2 linked regions of the Homo sapiens genome follow. The protein of the gene in region 1 interacts with the protein of each later gene in a pairwise test. Each region holds a gene or a part of one and is shown in the gene's direction. Other genes may lie near its edges. The genes, in order: ALDH16A1 and DERA.

Region 1 (8,143 bases):
CACAGCTCTTCTCTGGCTCCCCAGTGCTCCCAAGTGAAGGTCTGAGCCCCACAAGCCTGGCGTTGGAGACCCTATGTGGTCTGCCCCTCCCACCTCTGGAGAAGACCTCATTCTTCTAGCAACCTCGGCCCACTGAATTTCTTTCAGTCACTCTCCATTACTGGCTGATCCAATCCAATCATTCTCTCCCAGCTCTGGGCCGCTCTACCTAGAACCTTCTTCTGTCTGCCTGCTGAACTCCTCCTGTTCCTTCAAATCTTATCCCACACCCCCTCCTCCAGGAAGCCTTCCCTGACCCCTTCATGTGGGTGACGAGCCCTCTCAAGGCTGTGCTGGGTGCCCCCCTCCAAAGCAGCGTGAATCACACCCTATTGATACTGCATCCATCTCCTTGAGCCCCACCCATGACAGCGAGTTTCTGGAACGTGGAATGTGCATTTCATAGGTCCTTATTCCCCGGGGCACTGCCTAGAGCTTGGTCCCAGAAAGCTTCAAGAGACATATTGAAAAAAGGATATAGAGGCAGAAACAGGGACAGAGGTGAGGCAAGACAGAGATGGAGAAAGGGAGAAGGGCAGAGGAGAAAACAGGATGAAAGAGAGAGCCGCAGGCTGGGTGCAGTGGCTCACACCTGTAATCCCAGCACTTTCGGAGGCTGAGGCGGTGGATCACCTGAGGTCAGGAGTCTGAGACCAGCCAGGCCAACGTGGCGAAACCCCGTCTCTATTAAAAATACAAAAATTAGCTGGGTGTGGTGGAGCACACCTGTAATCCCAGCTGCTTGGGAGCCTGAGACAGGAGAATCGTCTGAACCTGGGCAACAAGAGCGAAACTCCATCACAAGAAAAAAAAAAAGAAAGAAAGAAAAAAGAAGGAGACAGCAGGCTCAGGACTAAAGCCAGGAGATCCGCTAATGCACGAAGAGCACTCTGCCCAGGCCTCCCGGCCCTGGAGTGGGGCATGGAAAAGTGCCAGCCTGGCCAGGTGGCAGAACCAGGACTGCCCGGGTGTGGGATGTCCAGGGCACTAGAGATCTACCATAGGGAAAAGAATCAGATCGAGGGGCCAGATCTCCAGGAGCTGAGGGAGGAGGGTCCTGGGCCCAGGATTCTTGGGTTCTAGGGAAGAAGGGGCCTAGCGGGCCAGACTCCTGGGTCCTCTGAGGGCACTGACTTGCATCCAGTTCTGCATGAGGCTCTCCCAGACTCATGGGGATGCGAAACCCAGCTTGGTCCTCCTCTAGCATCTGAAGCAGCTCCTCCTCGGTCACGTCGGCGGGAGGAGGGATAGAGGGGGAGTGGCAGATGTTGATGAAAACCTTCCCTTCCGAGGAGTTGGTCTTTATGCAGAAACCTGGTGGGAGTGGGTTAGTCATGACAATCCTTTTCTGCACAAGTCCCAGTCCCCATCCATTGTCTCCAGGCTCTGTCTCTTTTCCTTTTGCCCTGTCCCCCTTTTTTGTTCCACTCCCCACCCGAGATCCCTCACTTCTCTTTTTTTTTTTTTTTTTTGAGACAGACTCTCACTCTGTCACCCAGGCTGGAGTGCAGTGGCGTGATCTCGGCTCACTGCAACCTCCACCTCCCAGGTTCAAGCAATTCTCATGCCTCAGCCTCCCAAGTAGCTGGGATTATAGGCGCCCACCACCACGCCCGGCTAATTTTCGTATTTTTAGTAGAGATGGAGTTTCACCATGTTGGCCAGGCTGATCTCAAACTCCTGCCCTCAGGTGATCCTCCCGCCTTGGCCTCCCAAAGTGCTGGGCTCCCGGCCCCCTCTCTTCTTTGTTTTCTCCTTGTTTGTTTTTTGAGACAGGGTCTCACTGTGTCACCCAGGTTGGAGTGCAGTGGTACGATCTTGGCTCACCGCAGTCTCTTCCACCTGGCTCAAGTGAGCCTCCCACCTCAGCCTCGTGAGTAGCTATGACTACAGGCACGCACCCACCAAGTCCAGCTAATTTTGTTTATTTTTAGTAGAGATGAGGTCTCACTATGTTGCACAGGCTGGTCTTGAATGCCTGGCCTCAAGCAATCCTTCCACCTCGGCCTCCCAAAGTGATGGAATTACAGATGTGAGCCACTGTGCCCAGCCTCTCTTCCTATCTTTGTTGTTGTTGTTTGTTTCGTTTTGTTTTTGAGACAGAGTCTCGCTCTGTCACCCAGGCTGCAGTACAGTGGTGCGATCTCCACCCACTGCAACTTCTGCCTCTTGGGTTCCAGCAATTCTCCTGTCTCAGCCTCCCCAGTAGCTGGGACTACAGGCACGTGCCACCGCACCTGGCCTCTTCCTATCTCTGATTCTCTGGCCCCCTACCTACTCCTACTCTGTCCTCCAACTCCTTTCTGTCCTAGGATGATCTCTGTGGGTGTCTGCTCACCCCACCCCCACCCTAGGCCTTTATTTTCGTGTCTCTTTCCTTCCTCCTCTCTCTGTCCTCTCCCTGGGTCTCCTGTCCCTCTCTCTCCGGTGTCCTTTCTCACCAGGCTGAGGCTGGATTTGTGTCGATTCTGGTCTGGTTGTCTGGGCTTGCTGGAGCTCCTTCGAGGCCTGTATAAAGGAAAACTACCTCCAGGCTCGGAGTCTGTGCCATCAGACCCCTCATTTGTTCCTCAAATGGAGCAATTCTTATGCATGAGAGCTGTGGATAACGCGAGAAATTAGACGGTTTAGGTCCCCTTTCTCCTTTGAGAACTAGAAGAACAACCCCAACCCCATTCCCATTTCTTTTTTTTTTTTTTTTTTTTTGGAGACGGAGTCTCACTCTGTCGCCCAGGCTGGAGTGCAGTGCCGAGGTCTCGGCTCATTGCAAGCTTCGCCTCCCGGGTTCACGCCATTCTCCTGCCTCAGCCTCTCCAGTAGCTAGGACTACAGGTGCCCGCCACCACGCCCGGCTAATTTTTTGTATTTTTAGTAGAGACGGGGTTTCACCGTGTTAGCCAGGATGGTCTCGATCTCCTGACCTCGTGATCCGCCCGCCTCGGCCTCCCAAAGTGGTGGGATTACAGGTGTGAGCCACCGCGCCCGGCCCCCCACTCCCATTTCTTAGCAAACTTGAAGCCCATTAACCTCAATTCCCCGAGGCCTGGTTCCCGCCTTAGTGCATTCTGGGAACTGCAGTCCCATCTTTGAGCACCCCGCCAAAATCCCCGAATACTCAAGGATCCAGGGGTCCGGTCACTGCACCTGCAGCAGCAGCTCCTCAAATCGCGCCGAATCAGCACCGATCGCCTCCGCCTCGCTTAGCCCCATTCCCAGCAGCTTCGGGTTCGCCATGGCCCTGGGAAAGAGATCTAGGCGTCCTCGAGACCCTCAACGTGGGAAACTTTGCCCAGGATCCGAACCCCAGTGCCTGCTCTGGCCCTCAATCGACTCCGGATACCTACTATCCTGTTCAAAAACCTAAGACTGGCCTAAGACTACATTTCCATTCAAGACCGAACACCATCGTCAAATCCGTGGGGAATATGTGTCTCTAGACGCACTACCCTCCGTCCTACGTGCCGAACTGTAAACGAAGCCACACTTCCGGTCTATCGGTAAACACAGGACTGGAGTATGCCACACTTCCGAGTACCCCAGTGTTCATTCACAAGCTGGTATCGCGTTATCGACAAGCCACGCCCCTCGCATCAATCAAAAATAAACCCCAAGGCGGATCCCTGAGTGCCACACTTCCTGTATCTATGAAAGCCACACTTCCGGCTGGGCGCTGTGGCTCCTACCGGTAGTCCCAGCACTTTGGAAGGCCAGGGCAAGAGGATCGCTTGAGGCCAGGAGTTCGAAACCAGCTTGGGCAATACAATGAGATAACGTCCCACACCCCATCTCTTAAAAAAAAAAAAAAAGCGCCAGACTTCCACTCTTTCCACAACCAAAACTGGCCCCCTTACTTTGCAGTGAAGGTTGCATTTTCCAAACCTTAATCTCAATGTCCATCCTAAAAGGTACCCTTTTTATCTTTGAATTATCACTTCCTGCCAGCTCTAGATCCTAATACGTCCAGATCTAGACCCGCCAGGTCTAGATCTAGATCTAGACCTCTAGTCAATATAATTAGAAAAGCTGCACTTTGAGGCTGGGAGGCCGAGGTAGGAGGATCGCTTGAGCCCAGGAGTTCGAGACCAGCCTGAGCAACATAGCAAGATCCTGTCTCTACCAAAAAAAAAAAAAAAAAAAAAATTAGCCAGGCTTGATGGCACCTGCCTGTAGTCCCAGCTACTGTGCAGGCTGACGCAGGAGTAATGTTTAAACCTGAAAAGTCGAGGCGACAGTAAGCCGTGATCGGACCACTGCACTCCAGCCCTGGGCGACAGAGGGAGACCCTGTCTCAAGAAAATAAAAGGTAAAACAAAACCTGCACTTCCTGCTACTATAAAACAAGGCACTGGGAAGACGCATCAATAGGACGACCCTTTTTTTTTATTACTATTTTTTTTTTAGACACAGTCTCCCTTTGCCACCCAGGCTGGAGTGCAGTGGCGCGATCTCGGCTCACTGAAACGTACACCTTCTGGGTTCAAGTGATTCTCCCGCCTCAGCCTCTTGAGTAGCTGAGATTACAGGCGCGCACCACCACAGCTCGGCTAATGCTTGTATTTTTAGTAGAGACGGGGTTTCACCAAATTGGTCAGGCTGGTCTCGAACTCCCGACCTTAGGTGATCCGCCCGCCTCGGCCTCCCGAAGTGCTGGGATTACAGCCAAGAGCCATCGTGCCCGGCCACGCCGATCCTCATAAATCCGGAGCCCTCCTAACTATTCGCAAAGTACCCACATCGCCGTCTCCCCTTCCTCCCCGTTTTAAGCAGTGCGCATGCTCCTAAATACGCTTCCCCGTGGGGGACGTAGGCGGGGCCATCGGGTCCTAAGGAAAAAGTGTGGGCGTGGCTGCTCTCTGTATCTTGTAGCCCCACCCCATTCCCATTAGCCCCGCCCCTTTGGGCTGGAACCGGAGGTGTCGCTCTTCGGACCTCAAGGTTCCCCTTAACACAGAGCGCCCCGCAGTCTTCGCGGAAAGCGTTCGGGGTAGGCGATGGCTGCGACGCGTGCAGGGCCCCGCGCCCGCGAGATCTTCACCTCGCTGGAGTACGGACCGGTGCCGGAGAGCCACGCATGCGCACTGGTGAGAGTCTGCCCGGCCGGCGCTGCTCGCTGCGTTCCCCAGGCCTGGGCGCCCGGTTTTTCGCGGGGAGTCCCGTCATCCACTGCGGTAGCTCAGCCGCTCCGCCTCTCTTAGTCCCCGTGATTCCCGCCGCCCAATAGGATCGCGCCCTGTAGGACGCTCCCTTGAGCCTTGGCGGTGGCAGCCTTTTAGTCTGTTCCGGTCTTCCCCACTGGTTCTCTTGCCCCTTGATCCTGAACTCCTCGTAGTGTTTCCGCGGTTTTCCTGAACTCCTCTAGACGCTCTCGTGATTCCTCAGGGTCCCCTCAGAACCTGACGCCACCCACCAGACCCCTTAGGATTCCTGTGAGGCTCCAGTGACCCACAACCCCCATTGTCTTTCCACGACTCTTCAAAACATCCTATGGCTTCCATGGGCCTCCAGAGCACCCCAGACCTCCTGAGGGACTCCCTTCATCCCTTTGATTACCCAGAGACCTTCAGAACTTCCATGGAGCCCCCGTGATCCCATAGGACCCCTCAATACTCGTGGGGTTCATGTGACCTCATCGGAACTCTCAGGAGCCTAGAATACATCAGGACTTCCGGTTTGGGTTGGGTTTTTTTTTTGTTTTTTTTTTTGAGCCAGGGTCTCACTCTGTCGCCCAAACTGAAGTGCACTGGCGCTATCACACCACTGCAGCCTCAACCTCCTGGGCTCAAGCCATCCTCTCACCTCAGCCCCCCAAGTAACTGGGACCAGAGACGCGCGCCACCACTCTCAGCTAATATTTGTACTTTTTCTAGAGACAAGGTTTCAGCATGTTGGCCAGGCTGGTCTCGAACTCCTGGCCTCAAGTGATCCACCCACCTCGACTTCCCAAAGTGCTGGGATTACAGGCGTGAGCTACTGCACCCAGCCACATCAGGACTTCCTGTAATTACTTATGGCCCCTCACAATACCCTCACGGGGCTCCTATGATCTCTCTAGCTCTCAGAATGTCCCATAGGGTTCCCATGATTGTTCAGGAACCCCTGAAGTCCTCGTGAGGGTCCCATGATCCCCTGGGGGTCCTCAGAACCTCCCTAGGACTCCCATGACCCCTCAGAGGCCCCCAGAACCCTCGTGGGGTTCCTGCAAATGAGTAGGGCACCTCAAACTTTCTGTCGTTTCCCCAGGCACTCTCAGAATTCCTTCACGGGGCTCTCATGATCCCCCAGGGTCCCCCAGCACCCAGGCGAAAGGAGCTTAGGCTTCTTTGAGGGGGAGGGCAGGAGGCCAGAGCAATGATCCAAGTGGAAGGAACTGGATCAGAACCCTGGCACAGCCTAGAACTTGGGGAGGCCAAGACGGGCAGATCGCCTGAGCTCAGGAATTCGAGACCAGCCTGGGCAACATAGTGAAACCTCGTCTCTACTAAAATACAAAACATTGGGCCAGGCGTGGTGGCTCAGACTTGTAATCCCAGCACTTTGGGAGTCCTAGGTGGGCGGATCACCTGAGGTCAGGAGTTCGAGACCAGCCTGGCCAACATGGTGAAACCCCATCTCTACTAAAATACAAAAATTACCTGAGCGTGGTGGTGTTTGCCTGTAATCCTAGCTACTTGGGAGGCTGAGGTGGGAGAATTGCTTGAATCCAGGAGGCAGAGGTTGCAGTAAGCTGAGATTGCACCACTGCACTCCAGCCTGGGCAACGGAGCAAGACGCTGTCTCCAAAAAAAATACAAAAATGGCTGGGCGCAGTGGTTCACACCTGTAATCCCAGCGCTTTGGGAGGCCGAGGCGGGCGGATCATGAGGTCAGGAGATCGAGACCAGCCTGGCCAAGATGGTGAAACCCATCTCTACTAAAAATACAAAAAATTAGCTGGGCGTGGTGGCAGGCACCTGTAATCCCAGCTACTTGGGAGGCTGGGGCAGGAGAATCGCTTGAACCCAGGAGGTGGAGATTGCAGTGAGCCGAGACCACGCCACTGCACTCCAGCCTGGGCAACAAGAGCAAAACTCCATCTCAAAAAAAAAAAAAAAAAAAAAAGGAAACAGAAAACAAAAGATTAGCCGAGGATGGCAGCACACACCTGTAGTCCCAGCTACCCGGGAGGCTGAGGTGGGAGGATCACCTGAGCCTGGGAGGTGCAGTGATCATACCACTGAACTCCAGCCTGGGTGACAGAATAAGACCCTGTCCCCCCTGAAAAAAAAAGAAGTTGAGGCCAGGCAAGTGGCTCACACCTGTAATCCCAGCAGTTTGGGAGACCGAGGCAGGAGGATCACTCGCACCTAGGAGTTTGAGACCAGCCTGGGCAACATGGTGAGGCCCTATCTCTATTAATATAAAAATAAAACATAAAAAGTGAAGTTGAGACTTGGACTTGAGTCCTTGCATTTCAGACCCGTGGTCTTGCCTACACCAGCAAAGTTCTCAACCGTACAGTCTCTGGGCCAGACTCAACCAACAAACATGTTTTCTTTGGCGTGAACTTTATTTTTTTTTTATGTGAAATGCTGGACAATTGATTCCATGTAAACATCCGGGAGGTCCTCTTGAAAATAAAATTCCAAAATGTGTCAACATTTGGCTCAACTTCCCTGACAAAAGTCATCTGGGACCAATAGCTCCTGTCTTTTCCATGAATCGTTAAGCTCCTCTTCTCATCCAGGCCCTCTTCTCAGGCCTCCTGGAACCCTCTGGACATTCTTTTGGAATTTTGTTTTTCTTTTGGGGGGAAGCTTTCCAACTTGCACAGAATAATTAGCATTTATTTTGAACTCCTGTTTACCCATCACTGTGCCTCAACCATCATCAACATTTATCCCAGCGCTGTTTCCTTCTGTATTTTCTTTGGAGTAATTTAAACAAATCCTGGATGTCACAGTATTTTCCTATAAATATTTGAATCCTTTCTTCTAACAGATAAGGGCTCATTTTGTTACAAAACTACCATGGTCTGTTACCACACTTAACATTAAGTCATTCTTTTTGTTTTTTGTTTGTTTGTTTGAGACAGGATCTTACTCTGTCGCCCAGGCTAGCATTCAGT
Region 2 (15,980 bases), on another chromosome or scaffold:
TTGAACTGGACATGGATCTTGGTGTCATTTCCAACAGTGCTGCCACACATACGTTTTCATGTTTGCATTTGCAAACTTATGTACGTATTTCCATGGGACATATTCTGTGTACTGATTACTTTTTTAAAATACTCCTTTAATTCTGTTACAGCCCTGTTTGGAGATCTTCTCTGACTTCTGGTCACCTGTATCATAAAGTCTAGACTAGAGCCTAGAGCCAATAGAAACATAATGTGAGACATGGAGTCATTTTAAATTTTCAAGTGTACACATTATAAAAAAAATAAAAAGGAACAGGTGAAAATATTTTAATAGCATTTTACTTAGCCAAGTGTACCCCAAATATTATAATTTCATTGTGAAATCAATGTTAAAACGTAATTAGATATTTTACACCCTTCTTTTTGTACTGAATCTTTGAAATCTATGTATTTTACACTTAAAGCACATTTCGATTTGGACTATCCACATTTCAAGGGCTCAGGTAGGCACAAGTGTGTGGCTCCTGATTGGACAGCGCATGTCTACACTCAGCCTGGTGCTTACAGCACTTTACAAGTAAGCCATAGTCAGTCAAACAAGCCACATTCAGTCACATTTAGCCAACCTGCTTTTGCTTCTGACAGCCCCACAAACTTGCAGTGCTTCCGGTTTATTTTTCCTGCATCCTGCCCAGTTTTTTGGGCAGGGTTTCTCAGCTTTGGCACTGTTGAAGTTTGGGACCACATAATTCTAAGTTGTGGGTGCCTTGTAGGATACTGAGCAGTATCCTTGGCCTCTACCCACTAGATACAAGTGGCACCTTCTCCTCTAGAATCCCCCTACCCCATCTGTGGTGACCAAAAATGTCTCTAGACTGAGAAACAATGCTTTACGGTGAATCAGAAATCTCCACTTATCCATTAGGGTTGTTTTAGCCAACTGGATAAGCCTACTGTGACCTACCCTTCCTCTGAACTTGACTTTTTATCCAGCCAGTGTGGTAAGTTTTTATTTTTGTGTATGAGGAACAAAGTTAAAATCAAAATAGAAAAAGCGCCTCCTTTTGTAGGGTTATCATTTGGTGTTACATGCTTTAGGAATACTGTGAAAAATACAGGAACTTCTGCAGAAACACAAATGAAAATGATGGAAAGTCTAGAAAGTAAAGTTGCAGGGAAAATGACCTCCATCTCCACTACGACTTGAACCAGAAATAATAATAATAATAAATTGTGAGAAGAGTATTTGAGGACAAATTTATAACCAACACAAGGGCCTAAAAACCACCAAAATGACATATTAAGGTAAATAGTGGGACTTTTTTCATTGGAGAATTTTAAGAGAAGATATCATTGCCTTCCAATTATGGTTTCATATCTGTTCTCCCCAAAGGCATGTGTACTTAAAACCCCTCTTGGCCCCATAAGAAGATTCTTTGGTCCTGATGAGATTATGTGCATTAGAATCACTTCTCCTGGAAAGGAGACGCTAAAGGGTACTTGAATAAAATATTAAAAATTATGGAGGACATAACAAAGGCCAATCAGTCCTTTCTTTTCCCCAGACCCCATAATAGGAGAACATGGGTTATTTGATGAAATTAAAGAGTAGCAAATTAAGTGCTAATAAAACGAGATAGTCACTTACATAATTCATTGCCATGGGAGGTCACAGAGGCAAATTTTGTGGCTACATTAAATATGGGGCTGGATAATTTTATGACCGCTAATGATATTTTTAGCAGTCAAGGCTGATACTGTGAGAGAAGAAATCCTATTACATTCTCCAGTAGATGGTTTGCAGGGACCTCTGGCAAGAGGTTTCTGAGAAGTGCAAGAGCAGACCTTGTGAGTTCTAACCTTTGGTGTACTCAAAATTGGTTTTTAAGGGGAAAGTTCCCAGGCATCCCATTCATACCTCAGTCCCATATTTTCTTGTAGAGATCCAAAAGCCCTTTCTAGTCTGAAGCAGTGGAGAAAGACATTGCCCAGAATTAAATCCTTTCTGGTCTTTGGGAACCACTCGACTTATTTATCGTATGCCACCCGTGCGTCAGGTCCTTCGCTTGGAGTTTTAAAAAATCTTTTGGGGACATAAACATTTGGACACATCAGTGGCATTCTGAGTGAAGGGGATGTACTAAAGGTGGAATGCAGAGTTTCATGGAAGCACGAAGAAGCAAAGGGATGTCTCAACCTGTGAGGTTCAGGGAAGGCTCCCAGAGAAGGTGACATTTGAATCGACTCTTAAAGGATGAGCAGCAGTTCACTGTTCGCAAAGCAGGGAGGGCATTCTTGGTAGAAGGAGCTTGCAGCATGCACAGATCCAGAGACAGCCTGGCATAATGTGTCAGGGAACTGCCAGTAGTTTAGGAAGGCTGCACCACAGAGGCAGAGGAGCAGTGAGGGAGGAGCTGGGGCTTGAGAATGAGGAAGGAGCCAGATGGTGAAGGAAGAGGCTTGTGTTTGCCTGAGACCCCTCTCCAACAGTGGTGCCAGTGTTTCCAGTGGCGACAGTAGTGGTAGTGGTGCGTTGGGAGTAGAGAATGGGAAGGACTTCAGGGGTGTCCTGTGACCGATAAAGGACAGCCTGTCAAAGCCTTGCCCCACTGAGTAATAGGCCTACCTCTTTTTGATCACGGTCAACAATTAGTTGGCAGTGAGTCTTGGAGTTCACATACTCTTCACTCATTTTTCTATATCTGCTTGAAACAGTCTTTACCATGAACCAAATCAGCATTATCAATCATCTGAGGAGAAAAAAAAAAAGCCTCTTAGGGCTGGGTGCAGTGGCTCATGCCTGTAATCCCAGCACTTTAGGAGGGCGAGGCAGGTAGATCACTTGAGGTCGGGAGTTCGATACCAGCCTGGCCAACATGGTGAAACCCTGTCTCTATTAAAAATACAAAAATTAGCCTGGCGTGGTGGCGCACGCCTGTAGCCCTGGCTCCTTGGGAGGCTGAGGCATGAGTTCGTTTGAACCCGGGAGGTGGAGGTTGCAGTGAGCCAAGATCGTACCACTGCATTCCAGCCTGGGCGACAGAGAGACTGTGTCTGAAAAAAAAAAAAAAGAGGCTCCCCTGCGTTTGAGTAGGGGGTGTTTCTTACAGGTCTTAGATAAATTGGGACGAAGTCTAGAGTGTCTGGTCTGATTTTCTCGGGCTCTGCTAGAACAAAAACAGCCCTTGAGTGGGAAAGCAGAGGCAGATTTCATCGGCCTGACCCCAGACTCCCATTTTCTCTGTGAAGTTGGCTCAGCAAACAAGCAAGAAAACATACAATATCTTTGAGGAGCAGGAGCAGATGGATTGAAATGTTAAAAATCTGGTTTGTTAAATGATTTCAGCTAACAAAATAATTAGAGAGAAAAAGAAGCACCCAAACTCTCTTCCTTCTTCAGTGAAATTTAAATAAGATCATTATTAATCACTCAGAGTCCACCTTGCAATCTCTATACCTTTAATACTGATACTTTTAAGAAGAATGAAATGAAAATGAGTGAGAGAAAGAATGTCATCTGTAAACATTAGTTTAGATGCAAATACTTCAATTTGTATTGTTACATGATACAGTATGTGATTAGCAGTTTTCCTCATTGCATTATAAAGAGTTTTGTAATTAGTGCATTTTTTCTAATGGATAACTTTTTTTCCACAGTACTCTTTTAAGGCTCTTTTAAAAACATGGAATTGCTGGAGAGATATAGAAGTGAGGTTAGTTATAGAAGGTAAATAATGTTCATGTCCGATTTACCGTGAGGCCACCTATGTTTATAGGATATTGGTGGATGAAGTTGAAATATGTGTACCAAACACTGTTGGATGTTAGACACCCAAAGATGAGTAACATCATGGCTGACAATGTACTAAGTACAACGAATGGTTTCACCAGGAATCCTTGATGAATTGATTACAAGTTCTGTGGTAGAGATCTATCCAAATGTTAGCTCTGTCTGGGGAGCTGACAGTGTTTTCACAACAGCTAATATTTAGACTAGGTCTGAAGGTAGAAATTACAGTTAACTGGAAGAGAAGAGAGAGTAGATCAAGGTAGGAGAGAGCATTTCAGAACAAAAGCAACAGAGATAGCTCCTGAAACTTTAAATAATTTGTTTTTTCTTTTTTTCTAACTTCTGTTATATCAGTCAATGTTGTTATTTCTAATACATTTTGAAAAATTTTTCTTTGAAGAAAGAATGGGCTGTATCCTGTCAGCATGCAGTAGGTATTAATCTTGCCAGTAAGCGGGTAGTGAGCACAGATTCTGTAAGCCCCACCATTAGTTCACTTAAGATTTGTTAATCATTTGCTCTCCTGGGCTGGACACTCACCAGTAAGTCTTTGCTCTCAGAGGTGAGGTACGTGGCATGGGTAACACACATTTCCCACGTCGTTAGACATGTCTGTGTGATGAATCAATACAGGTTCTTCCAGTTCCAAATGTATAGGCTGGTACAGAAGCAATTGTGGTTTTTGCCTTTGAAAGTAATGGAGTGATTTTGCATGAAGTATGCCTTTTGTTGACTGGTCTTCCATCAATAAGGTTGTTTATTTATAGTTGTACAAAAAAGAAATATAAGCTTTAAAAAAAGGTTGATGTCAAATGATAAATGTATCCTTTCAAGGACCATGTAAAAATAGGTGACTATATTTAATGAAACTTTAGGTTTCAGAAAGTGTTTTTCTGTCTGTTTTAGACCTTAGCTGGATCTCCAAAATACAAGTGAATCACCCGGCAGTTCTGAGGCGTGCGGAACAAATCCAGGCTCGCAGAACCGTGAAAAAGGAGTGGCAGGTAAGGGTTCTTCTTGAGCATTCTGTGCCTGTATTTTACAATGCATGGTCTCTTCCCTCAAGGCCACAATATTGAATTTCACTCAAGATGCATCTAAACTTAAAAGATTGCAGCTGTCCATGACTTATTTTAATAATTCATATATGATGATGATGGGTTGGAGAAAGATAACACATTTATCCAAACAAGTTAAAATCTTATCACTCTTGAGTGGCAAAACCGCAAATGAATTTGAGGCATCTTTATTCATGAGTGAATTAAATGGCATATTTTCTCAACACATTTATTCAGTTTTTTAGACATGCCTTCTTTGGTTGTCTTCTGTTTTAATTTTAAAGCCCTAACATCTAAACTTGATGTGTCCACTGTTGAGGCCCTTAGGTATAAGAGTTGACCTTTCTTGACCATCATATTTACCTTACTATTACTTTCTATAAATCATTTTTCAAAATTCCAAAAATGATGTTTCGTAGAGTACTTGCGGTCAGCATTTTCTTCAGTGTATCCCAACCAAAGACGTGCTGTGTAGGATTAAAGGGAATTCAGAGTTCATTTCACAAGTGAGACAGAATACTGTGATTGAATCCTTGAGAGTGATAGTTCACGTTTTGCTCATCCTTAGAAATATTCTGGTTGAAAAGGTAAAATAAAATTCATCAGACTGAGTTGTGAAATATGAATATTGTTTTAAAAATGGAATTGGATTAAATTGAAAAAACACCAAAAAACTTGGAAACTTTTAAAAATGATAATCTCATCCCAGATCCCAGAGCGGGAGGTAAAATGTAAGGTAGAAACCTTCTTTCGGAGTTCTTCTTTGTCAGGGTGGCTCTGATGGGCTCTCCCTTTGGCTGAGATGGAGTAGTCAGAAGTGGGGAGACATGGGCTAATAGGGGTTTCAATTTGGGATATCTGTGGGAGAAAAAAAATGTTTAAGCCTACTCTTCCTCCCTTTTATTTTGGGCAGTGTTCACCTTGTTAGTGGCTCTTGAGCTGTGTTTATATCATGTATCAGGATATTCCATTGAACAGTGTAGGCATAAGATATTAACACCCATACTTGTCTAATGATTCTCTACTAACCACCTGGGTTGGAGGTTGGTTGGTTTGTTTATTTATTAAATTTACTTTGTTTTCACTTTTGTTTAAACCAGGCTGCTTGGCTCCTGAAAGCTGTTACCTTTATAGATCTTACTACACTTTCAGGTGATGATACATCTTCCAACATTCAAAGGCTCTGTTATAAAGCCAAATACCCAATCCGGGAAGATCTCTTAAAAGCTTTAAATATGCATGATAAAGGTAATGTTGTTGTGTGTGATCTATGTGGTGTTTAGTGCTTACAATACTGATTACTAAATCAAAGACGACTTAAGATACAGCTGCTAATGATAGCGGTGATAGAATCCATGATAGAAACTCTTGCTGTGTATACATAGACAGATTCTTCTCTGAAAAACAGCAGGAAGAGAATCTGAGTCTTTTTTTTTTTTTTTTTTTGAGGTCAGTTCTTTCCATCAATGGATTAAAATGCTTGGTAGAGAGTGACTTTATTTCTTTTCAGTTCTTCAGTTTTGGAAAATTTCTGTTTAGTGACACTGAAATACTCTTTCTGATTCCCTAGCCATACGTGAAAAAGCCAGTCTCATTACTTAATAATCACATCTCATACATAAAGTATTTTCTGTGAGTATATGAAATACTTTTGAAAATAAAGTGCAAATGAGAAATATAGCCTGCTTATATATTAGGTTAGATCTTTCAAAAAAAGTCATATTCACTGCCTTAGTATACATGAAAAGAAGGACTTTTCTAGAGTTGCCATAAGTTTAGAACCTTAGCATTTTGGAGATGTTGGACACCTGTAAGAATTGATTCCCTTGTTTTCTAAATAAAGAAACAAAGACCTGGAAGGCTAAGCGGCATTCCCAAGGCTACACGTCTTGTTACTTGCTGGGCTGGTTTTGGGAGCCAGGTCTCCTTCCCATGGAGTATGCTTCATGGCCCCCGAGTGCCTATCTGCTGTGAGTGCAACTGGAGACGTTGAATTGGCCCAATGCAGGTCTTTTATCCCAAATAAACACGTTTAGGTTTGTAGGTAACATACAAACCTAAACAACTCTACGGCTTTTGAAAAGTATTTATTATGTTTATTTCGTGTTGGCCATAAAAATATCACCTTATTTATTGCACTTAAAGGTAACAACTTGATGTAAGGTCTTATGATATTGCTTTGTTTTATAGTGACTATTTGAATTCTAAATTTTTTAAAATTTATGAACTTATTTCTTAAAATCAGGGCTTCCGTTTCAGATTTTATTATTTCTTGCAAAAGAGGGAATAGGATTAGTTAAATGTCATTTTTGTGGTACCACCCTCTAAATTGTACTTATATTTGTCTTCATCTGTCCTTCTTCAAACTGTCCTTTCTTCAGGTATGTCCTATGTGAATGCTCTGTAAATATGGATTTTGTTATCTACATGAAATATTTGCATTTAGTAATGATCACCAAATTTACTATTTAGACATTTTTAAAAAACAGTACTATGTTAATCTCAAAGATGAGTATATCAAACTTGTTTTTATGACTTTAACGATAAGAAAATAATCCATATTGTCAAGAACTAGAAGGGAATGTGGAAAATAAAAATCTTTTAATTTATTGCAGTATTGTGGGGGAATTATTTTTTTCTCATTTGATTTTTGCCAGTGTTGCGATATAAATAATAATTAAAAGCATGTTGTATGAGTTGAACTTCATTGAAAGTTGGCTATTCCTATTTTTTCTTGATAGGCATTACTACAGCCGCCGTTTGTGTTTATCCCGCCCGGGTGTGTGATGCTGTAAAAGCACTCAAGGCTGCAGGCTGTAATATCCCTGTGGCATCAGGTAAAATGTGTTGTGGCTTTTGTTGTTATTTTTTAAACATGTTTCCAGTTCTTCATACAATGGGGTATTATATGTAGGTTTGTACTATGATTTAAATTAGTTTATGTATTTAATTAGTTGTATTTATTCATGATTTTAGTATGTACTAATTGCTTAGTAAGTGGAAGACATTTATTCCCAACAATATAGAACTGTATTCCTATCCTTAAAGAAACTCAGTTTAGGAGGAATAGTCAGGTAAAGAAAAAAGTCATAAGGCATGACATATAGTATATATATATATACACACACACACACACACATATACATACTATATATGTATATGTATATATACATATTAACTATATATATAACTATATACATACTAACACACACATGTATGCATGTTCTGTTATACATATATATGTAAAATATAATAATAATGATATGCGGGCTGGGGACGGTGGCTCACAACTATAATCCCAGCACTTTGGGAGGCCGAAGCAGGTGGATCACTTGAGGTCAGGAGTACGAGACCAGCCTGGCCAACATGGCAAAACCCCATCTCTACTAAAAATACAAAAATTAGCCAGGCATGGTGGCAGGTGCCTGTAATCCCAGCTGCTGGGAGGCTGAGGCTGGAGAATCGTTTGAACCTGGGAGGCAGAGGTTGCAGTGAGCTGAGATCATGCCCCTGCACTCCAGCTTGGGTGATAGACCAAGACTCCGTCTCAAAAAAAAAAAAAAAAAAAAAAAAAAACAACGATATGTGCAAAATGTGTAGTTGCGGTTCTGAGCAGGGAATGATATATTCTGCAGAGGTTGGTGACACCAAAGTAAGAGAAAGCATCGTCGTGGAGATAATTGCATTGGATCTTAAAGGATGAGGAGGAGTTCACAGTGTTAATAAGGTAGGGAACCACATGTTAGACAGAGGCACTAGCACGTGTGAAGGCACAAAGCATGTTCAGGGAACTGGAAAAGGTTTGCTGTTGTTGACTACAAAGGCAGGGCTCTGAAGACAGGGCAAAGGGGGAGATACAGGAGTTGAAGCTAGAGAGGGAGATCAGGGCAGAATTGCAGAGGGGATCCATGCCATGTGGGGGCATTTGGCCTGTATTCTGATGATAGGGAAGACACTGAAAGGTTAGAGGCGTGACGTGATCAGCTTCATGGCATAGTAAGTTACCTGATGGTACTGGATAAATTAGAAAAGGAGTGAAATGGAGTTAGGGGAGACTTGTCACAGTACATGCAGGACCTGATAAAAGCCACACAAAACCTAGAAGATAAAGGAGAGAGTGCATTCAGAAGTCACTGACTTCAGATAGACACGGTAGGACTTGGTATGACAGAAAAGTCTTTAAAACATTAGTTTGGTAAATGTGTATCTGTGTGTATATGGATGGATGAATAGACAGATATAAAATTAGATTCTAGTTTTAAGAGATGTTAGAGGAATATCCTGATGCTTTAAAAAGGGAGTCTAGGCCAGGCATGGTGGCTCACATCTGTGATCCCAACACTTTGGGGGGGCTCAGGCGAGAGGATTGATTAAAGCCAGAAGTTTGAGACCAGTGTGGGCAACAAAGATCTCTACAAAAAAATAAAATAAGTAAAAATTTAAAAGGAGTTTATAAAGGTCATTAGCTTATTAGGAATATATTAAAAGAAACATGGTGCACAGTATTTATATAGAATTGATTTATGAGGATTCCTGAAGTATTTGGCAGCTACACTTGTATAGACCTTAATTTTTCATCAGCCTCAGTCAGTTCAGTTTTTGCTTTAAACAACAGAGAAACATGCTTTCCTCTAAGGTAACAGACCTAAGGAATTTTTTTAATTTTTATTTTTTGAGACAGAGTCTCGCTCTATCACCCAGGCTGGAGTGCAGTGGCGCGATCTCGGCTCACTGCAGCCTCCGCCTCCTGAGTTCAAGCAGTTCTCCTGCCTCAGCCTCCCAAGTAGCTAGGGCTACAGGTGTGCACCACCACACCAGGCTAATTTTTATACTTTTAGTAGAGATGGGGTTTCACCATGTTGACCAGGCTAGTCTCAACCTCTTCACCTCGGATGATCCGCTAGCCTTGACCTCCCAAAATGTTGGGATTACAGGCAAGAGCCACTGTGCCCAGCCCCAAGGAATTTAATATCAAGGTAACATGACAGGTTTTTTTAGAAACAGGGATGGAGAGTTAATGATGTGCATGTAAAAGATGTTACTATTTTTCAAGAGTGTAGTTGTGTTTTGTGTTTTCATTTTCCTCTTATTTACACTTGGCTCTGCTCTTCCCAACCCTGCCCCTGCCTCAATTTGGTGGACTAATTAGGTGTGTTTTCCTCCTGCATTCTCTTTTCTTTATGCTCATCTGCCAGGCTGGTTGTTTTTAACATAGGCAGTGGGAGGAACACATAGGACAGTTTGTTTACCACAGCTAAAGAGGTTCATGAGAGAATTAATCAAGATAAATCAAGGGTAAATGAGTAAATCAAGATAGCTAACTTGATCAAGATTTGGACCCAGAACTAGTGTGCTAGATAACTAGTGTTCATTAAGATAGGGCTACCACTACTATTTTATGGCTATCACTGTGAAGATAAAACATCTTTGCTGGTTACTTAATCCACCTTCATGAGCATCTCTGCAGCATCTTAATTTCAGGTCTTCCAGAAAATGATATTTGTCCTAACACTAATATGAGAGAACATTCAATTTCTTCACACTTATGCATAAGTGATGTTCTTAAGTGTCAGTGCATTGGTCTTTAAATGCTGATGTTTGGGGGTTTGGAATTCTTTGATGAACTACTACTGACCAATTGAAATTTGTTTTCCCCTCCCCCCCTTGCTTACTTTCTTTCTTCCCTCCTTCCCTCTTTCTTCATTTCCTTTCTTAACTCTATTAGTGGCCGCTGGATTTCCAGCTGGACAGACTCATTTGAAGACACGATTAGAAGAGATCAGATTGGCTGTGGAAGATGGAGCTACAGAAATCGACGTGGTAATTAACAGAAGCTTGGTGCTGACAGGCCAGTGGGAAGGTAGGTGCATGCTTTTACCTAAGAGAGTTTCACCATTCTTCCCTGGTGAATCAGATGATGAGGTAAGATGTGGTATGTTTTAGAGGTCACTGTTCTAGGTGACAAGTTAGTAGATCAAATGGTGAGTTTAGGAGAAAGCAGGCTAAGATTACCCATCCTTGTGCCCCTCATAAATCTAGGCAGTTGCCTACCTACATGAACTTTTCAGATCCTTTTGAGTGCTTAGGTGAATAGTTACTTCCATGCAATAGATTCATAACTTTTAAAACAATTTTATTTTACCAACATGCTTTTTCTTCAGAAGGGAAAAGTTACTACTATTCTATACTGTTTTGTTACTCAATACATACTTCACTCCAGGCAAGTCTTTTATGCAAAGTTTATTTGAATATATTGGAGGAAACTTCCCTTTTTTATGTTAATTTTTGCAGTCTTTAAAGGTATGGGATTATTAAGTTGACTAAGTTTATTTTTACTTCTAGCATTCTTAGACACAGCTCTGATGACTATCATGAAATTAATGATTCACTATCACGTCAGCATACACTAAGACATTGCCCTTTCCAGCAACAAGCTTTTGTTTTTTTAAACAGATATTAAAGAATCAAATAGATTTTACCTCTGTCTTAAATATATTTTGTGTACTAAAGATGAGGTCATTGGTAGCTAGAAAAGTAAAATTCTCTTTCAAAAAAGTCATTATAATAAATAGTTTAACCAAAAATTTTTAATGAAATCACAAGTTAAAGCCAGGATAGTATATTGTCTCTTTATATATCAAATAAATGGCATATTTTATACTAATTATGGAGGCTATTCCCACACTCCTTTAAAGTTTAAATAAGAGATAGGATTTTATCTCTTATTTAACCTGCTTATTGGACTTGCCTATTTCTCATGGGTATTTTCCTGTGACTGTTTCTATCCATCTGTATCTGTAAAGCCTATGTCTATTTGTGAAGCCTAATTCCATTGATTGTCAATTATGAATTGCTTTTGGTTATGAAGTAGCAAATGTTCAGTCAGTGGTTTAAACCCTCAGTATTTATTCTCTTATATAAAGTCCAGGGGTAGGTATTTCAGGGGTGTGTGGCAGCTCCACAAAGTTCTTGGAGACCCGGGCTACGTTTATATTCCAGTTCCAAAGCATGTGGCTTCTGCTGTTAATGTCAAGGGCACTTCATTGTCTGAGATGGCTTCTGAAGCTCCAGCACCTTACACTCATCTCCAAGACCATAGGAAAGAAAGGCTTTTCTCATCAAGTCTCACACAACACCTTTGTTTATTACACCTTTGCCCGTTGGCCTGAGCTGAGTGACGTGGCCATTCTTGGCTGCAAGTAAGCTGGAAAATAGAGTTTTTAGCTTGGAATATTAACTACTTTCCTGTACATTCCCATTTCCATTGCGTTCACCCCACTGCCCCCCAAGTTCCCCATTAATACTCATCAACATTTATAATTCTTGCCAGGTTTAAACTCTTGACAGTTCACAAATATCTTTTTGTATTTTGTGTTCCTTTTTTGTGATTGTTCATGTGTGTGTTTTAGCCAATTACAGTCATTCTGAAAAGGCGTATTTTAAATAGATATCTCTGTTCCTATATATTAATTTTGCTTATCTGCTTTTAGTCACGGATTTCACTAAGATTTAAGGCTAGAGTAAAATGAAAAAGTGAGTAAGCGTAGTATTTAAAACAAATCTGGCAATAAACTTTATGTGATTTAGTTGTATACAAACCTATATGTCCTTTATATCTTAAGCAATTGTAGATGTAGAAATTGGGTTTATATTATAACTTACACCTTTTATTAAGCAGTTGTGGATATAGAAATATGGTTTATATTATGCTACTAATTGGAAAATAAAATACAATAGGAGATGGGTTTTGATGTAGCTGACTGCCCCTTAATGAACTAGGAATGGTTGTTTTTAAGAACTGATAATTTCCCAATAACAGGCGTTTATGCAAAATGTAATGACAGATCTTTGTCCTGGACCATACTTTTATATTAACTCTTTTTCTAGTGTTAATAACCTCTTGACCCAAACAAATTGAAAAGGAACATTTAATACTAGAAATTTAATTCTAAATAGAAACCTGAAATGACTTAGGACTTTTTGCTGCAATATTTTGTCTTAATTTTGATTCTCAATTTGATTACATATTGTATTTTTCAGTGTCATGTTTTAATATTAGCTGTTTATTAAAATATGAGCATAAAATAATTTCTTGGAATTTGTGGATGGAAATGTCTATCAAGCAATTGCAGTTTTAAATCCAGGGCCCTCTCCCTTGTGCAGTGAGGTTTGTAGGATATTTGGTAAAGCACAATAGAAAGAACCCCATTTTATTTTTTAAGTTCTGGGGTACATGTGCAGAATGTGCAGGTTTGTTGCATAGGTAAACGTGTGCCATGGTGGTTTGCTGCACCTATCAACCCATCACCTAGGTAGGTATTAAGTGCCTCATGCATTAGCTATTTTCCCTAATGCACTACCTGCCTCCACCCTCCCCCAACAGGCCCCACTGTGTGTTGTTCCCCTCCCTGTGTCCATGTGTTCTCATTAAGAGCCCCATTTTTTAAACCTGGCCCTTCAGAGTGGTCTTAACCATTTCTCATGGATGTGAGAGTCCACAGTTTAGGGTATGAATTCGAGGAGACTGGAGTTTGGGGGTGGGGGAGGTTTGATATTCCTCTCTGGGTTCTCCTTAGTGACCATTTAAAATGTCCACTTTCCTGAAATTTCTAACTTTTCCACCCTCCTTGAAGCTCCTTCACTGTTAGCATATGAACTGCCTCCTACTTCTCAGAGAAAATAAAATCATCAGACAGGAGCTCCCTCCAGGTCCTTGCATCAGGGCTGCTTTTCTTTGCTTCTTCCTTTGCTCCTTCCTCCTAAATTCCTTCCCTCGACTGTGCTGTGGCTCTCATCTCCCCCTGCATTTTCAGAAGCCCTGCTCTATCTATTGGGCATTCTTTCTTCCGTGTCATCAGCCTTTCTGCCAGCTCATTCCCATTAAGCATTTAGACATACTCAAGCTTTTCTTAGCCATTTATGAAAGAACCTACATGCTGGCTTTCCTTTTCCTTCATCCCCAGCAACGTCCTCCTTTCTTCTCTTCCCTTCATGACTAAAATTCTGAAAAGAAGGCCCGATGCGGTGGCTCACACCTGTAATCCCAGCACTTTGGGAGGCTGAAACAGGCACTTTGGGAGGCCTCATCACCTCTTGCTCTGCTGCCGCCCTAAGCTCTGGTTCCGCAGCAACGCTCTGGAGTGAGGCGTCCTCCTCACTTGAGGTTGGGAGTTTGAGACCAGCCTGGCCAACATGGCAAAACCCTATCTCTACTAAATATACAAAGATTCGTTGGGCATGGTGGCACATGCCTGTAATCCCAGCTACTCTGGAGGCTGAGGTGAGCGAATTGCTTGAACCTGGGAGGCAGAGGTTGCAGGGAGCCAAGATTGCGCCACTGCACTGCAACCTGAGGGACAGAGTGAGATTCCCTCTCAAAAAAAAAAAAAAGAATTCTGCAAAGAGTTATATTTATTTGTTTGTCTTGAGAAGTTCAAACTAATATACTAATGACCTGTCATCTCATTATGTCCAGGGCATACTCCCCAGTTGTTTATTCAGCATTACCATGCAACATATGACACAGCAGACTGTTCCTTCCTTCTGGTAATGCTTTGTTGTTGTGGCTTTGGTGCCTACATTCCTGAGGTCTTCCTTTCTGTTTCTGATTACCCCTGCGTCTCATTTGCAAGCTCCTTCACCTCCTCTGTCATCCCTGAAGTGTCCATGTTTCTCAGAATCTGAGAACTGTGGTTCTCAGATTCTGTCCCAGTGTGACTTTTCCACAACCTTGGTGTGCTTTCCTTTGGAAACGTCATGTCCTTGCTGATTTCAGTTACATTCCTTATGGCAAAGACAACCAAACCTCCTGAGCACCAGGACCACCTGGACCCGGGGCCACCTGCTCCAGAACTCGTATTCCGTTGTATCACTACACCATGTTGCATTTTACCCATCATTTACATATAAGTAGACATTCAAATATCACTGACCCTTGACAAAATCAGAGAAATATAGCTATTTTGGAAATAAATCTATTAGGCCGGGCACAGTGGCTTATGCCTGTAATCCCAGCACTCTGGGAGGCTGAGGCAGGCAGATCACTTGAGCCCAGGAGTTCAAGACCAGTCTGGGCAACATGGCAAAACCCCATCTCTGCATAAAAAAAAAAAAATGCAAAAATTAGCCTGGTGTTGTGGTATGCGCCTGTAGTCCCAGCTACTCAAGGTTGGGCCTGAGATGGGAGGATTCCTTGAATGTGGGAGGATTCCTTGAGCCTGGGAGGCAGAGGTTGCAGTGAGCCATGATTGTGCCACTGCACTCATAAGCCACTGCGCCTGGCCTAATAGATTTATTTCTGAAATGGCCTGAGCAAGAGAGTGAGACCCTGTCTCAAACAAACAAACAAACAAACAAAAACTATTAAAAAGTGTTTTCATTTCCCTGACTTTCTTAACAATTTTTATTAAATACAATTTAATTTTTTCTTGATTATTCCAAACTGTTTCATTACTGATTATATTATCCCAGAATACAGTGATGCTTTCAGGGGCCAGTGGAATCTCTGAGATGATTGGCCTCATAGCTCACAGTCCAGACTCTTGTGCTTTTTGATTTATGTATCTTCTTATTTGTTACTGTTTTTTTGCCTACTCCTTAGTGGTTAAGCTTTTTACTGTCAGATCATGTTGAGCTCGTGACGGCACACTGTCCTTCCCTGCCAATCCTTCTGTCACTCCTGTCTAGCTGGACATGGAAACGTGGATAACTACATTTCTCACTTACCACCATAGTTTTAACCCTATAGGGTGTGGCATGTATTGTAGGCTCTCAAAATTACAATACCTGACAAACATTTTCAAATGATTTGCCCCAGCTGCTTTCCTGACAGGATTAGCATATCCCCCTGGGCATTTGTGATAAAAGAATTGAGGTGTGTATGTGAGGGAGGAATAGGCTTCTAAATGGGGAAAATCCCTCCAGGTGATTTTGTTCTCCTTCCCCACCAGTCCCATGTCCTTATTAAGAAGTACTAACTCAGGACTCTTTCTTCTTCTTCTTTTTTTTTTTTTTGACATAATTCCAGTTCTTAGTTGCATATACTTTAGGTGCCAGATAATGGAAACATTGTTGAATTTACATACAACAATGTACGTAAATTCATACATTGAATACATTTATATATTGTATGTTTTATTGTATTACTAATAC

Evidence for each region.
Region 2: the proteins of ALDH16A1 (region 1) and DERA interact in binary tests that used the Homo sapiens proteins (3 or more experiments, as listed by UniProt).

What each region holds. Positions count from the first base shown.
Region 1 is NC_000019.10:49,448,302-49,456,444, forward strand, and holds the start of ALDH16A1 (aldehyde dehydrogenase family 16 member A1), read left to right. Parts: upstream 1-4,923; 5' UTR 4,924-5,030; coding exon 5,031-5,120; intron 5,121-6,612; exon of another isoform or gene 6,613-6,633; coding exon of another isoform or gene 6,634-6,636; intron 6,637-8,143. Other genes in the region: PIH1D1 (PIH1 domain-containing protein 1), read right to left, coding at 1,174-1,353, 2,481-2,547, 3,184-3,273.
Region 2 is NC_000012.12:15,952,259-15,968,238, forward strand, and holds part of DERA (deoxyribose-phosphate aldolase), read left to right. Parts: intron 1-4,677; coding exon 4,678-4,775; intron 4,776-5,929; coding exon 5,930-6,077; intron 6,078-7,570; coding exon 7,571-7,666; intron 7,667-10,554; coding exon 10,555-10,689; intron 10,690-15,980. UniProt on the Homo sapiens protein: Catalyzes a reversible aldol reaction between acetaldehyde and D-glyceraldehyde 3-phosphate to generate 2-deoxy-D-ribose 5-phosphate. Participates in stress granule (SG) assembly.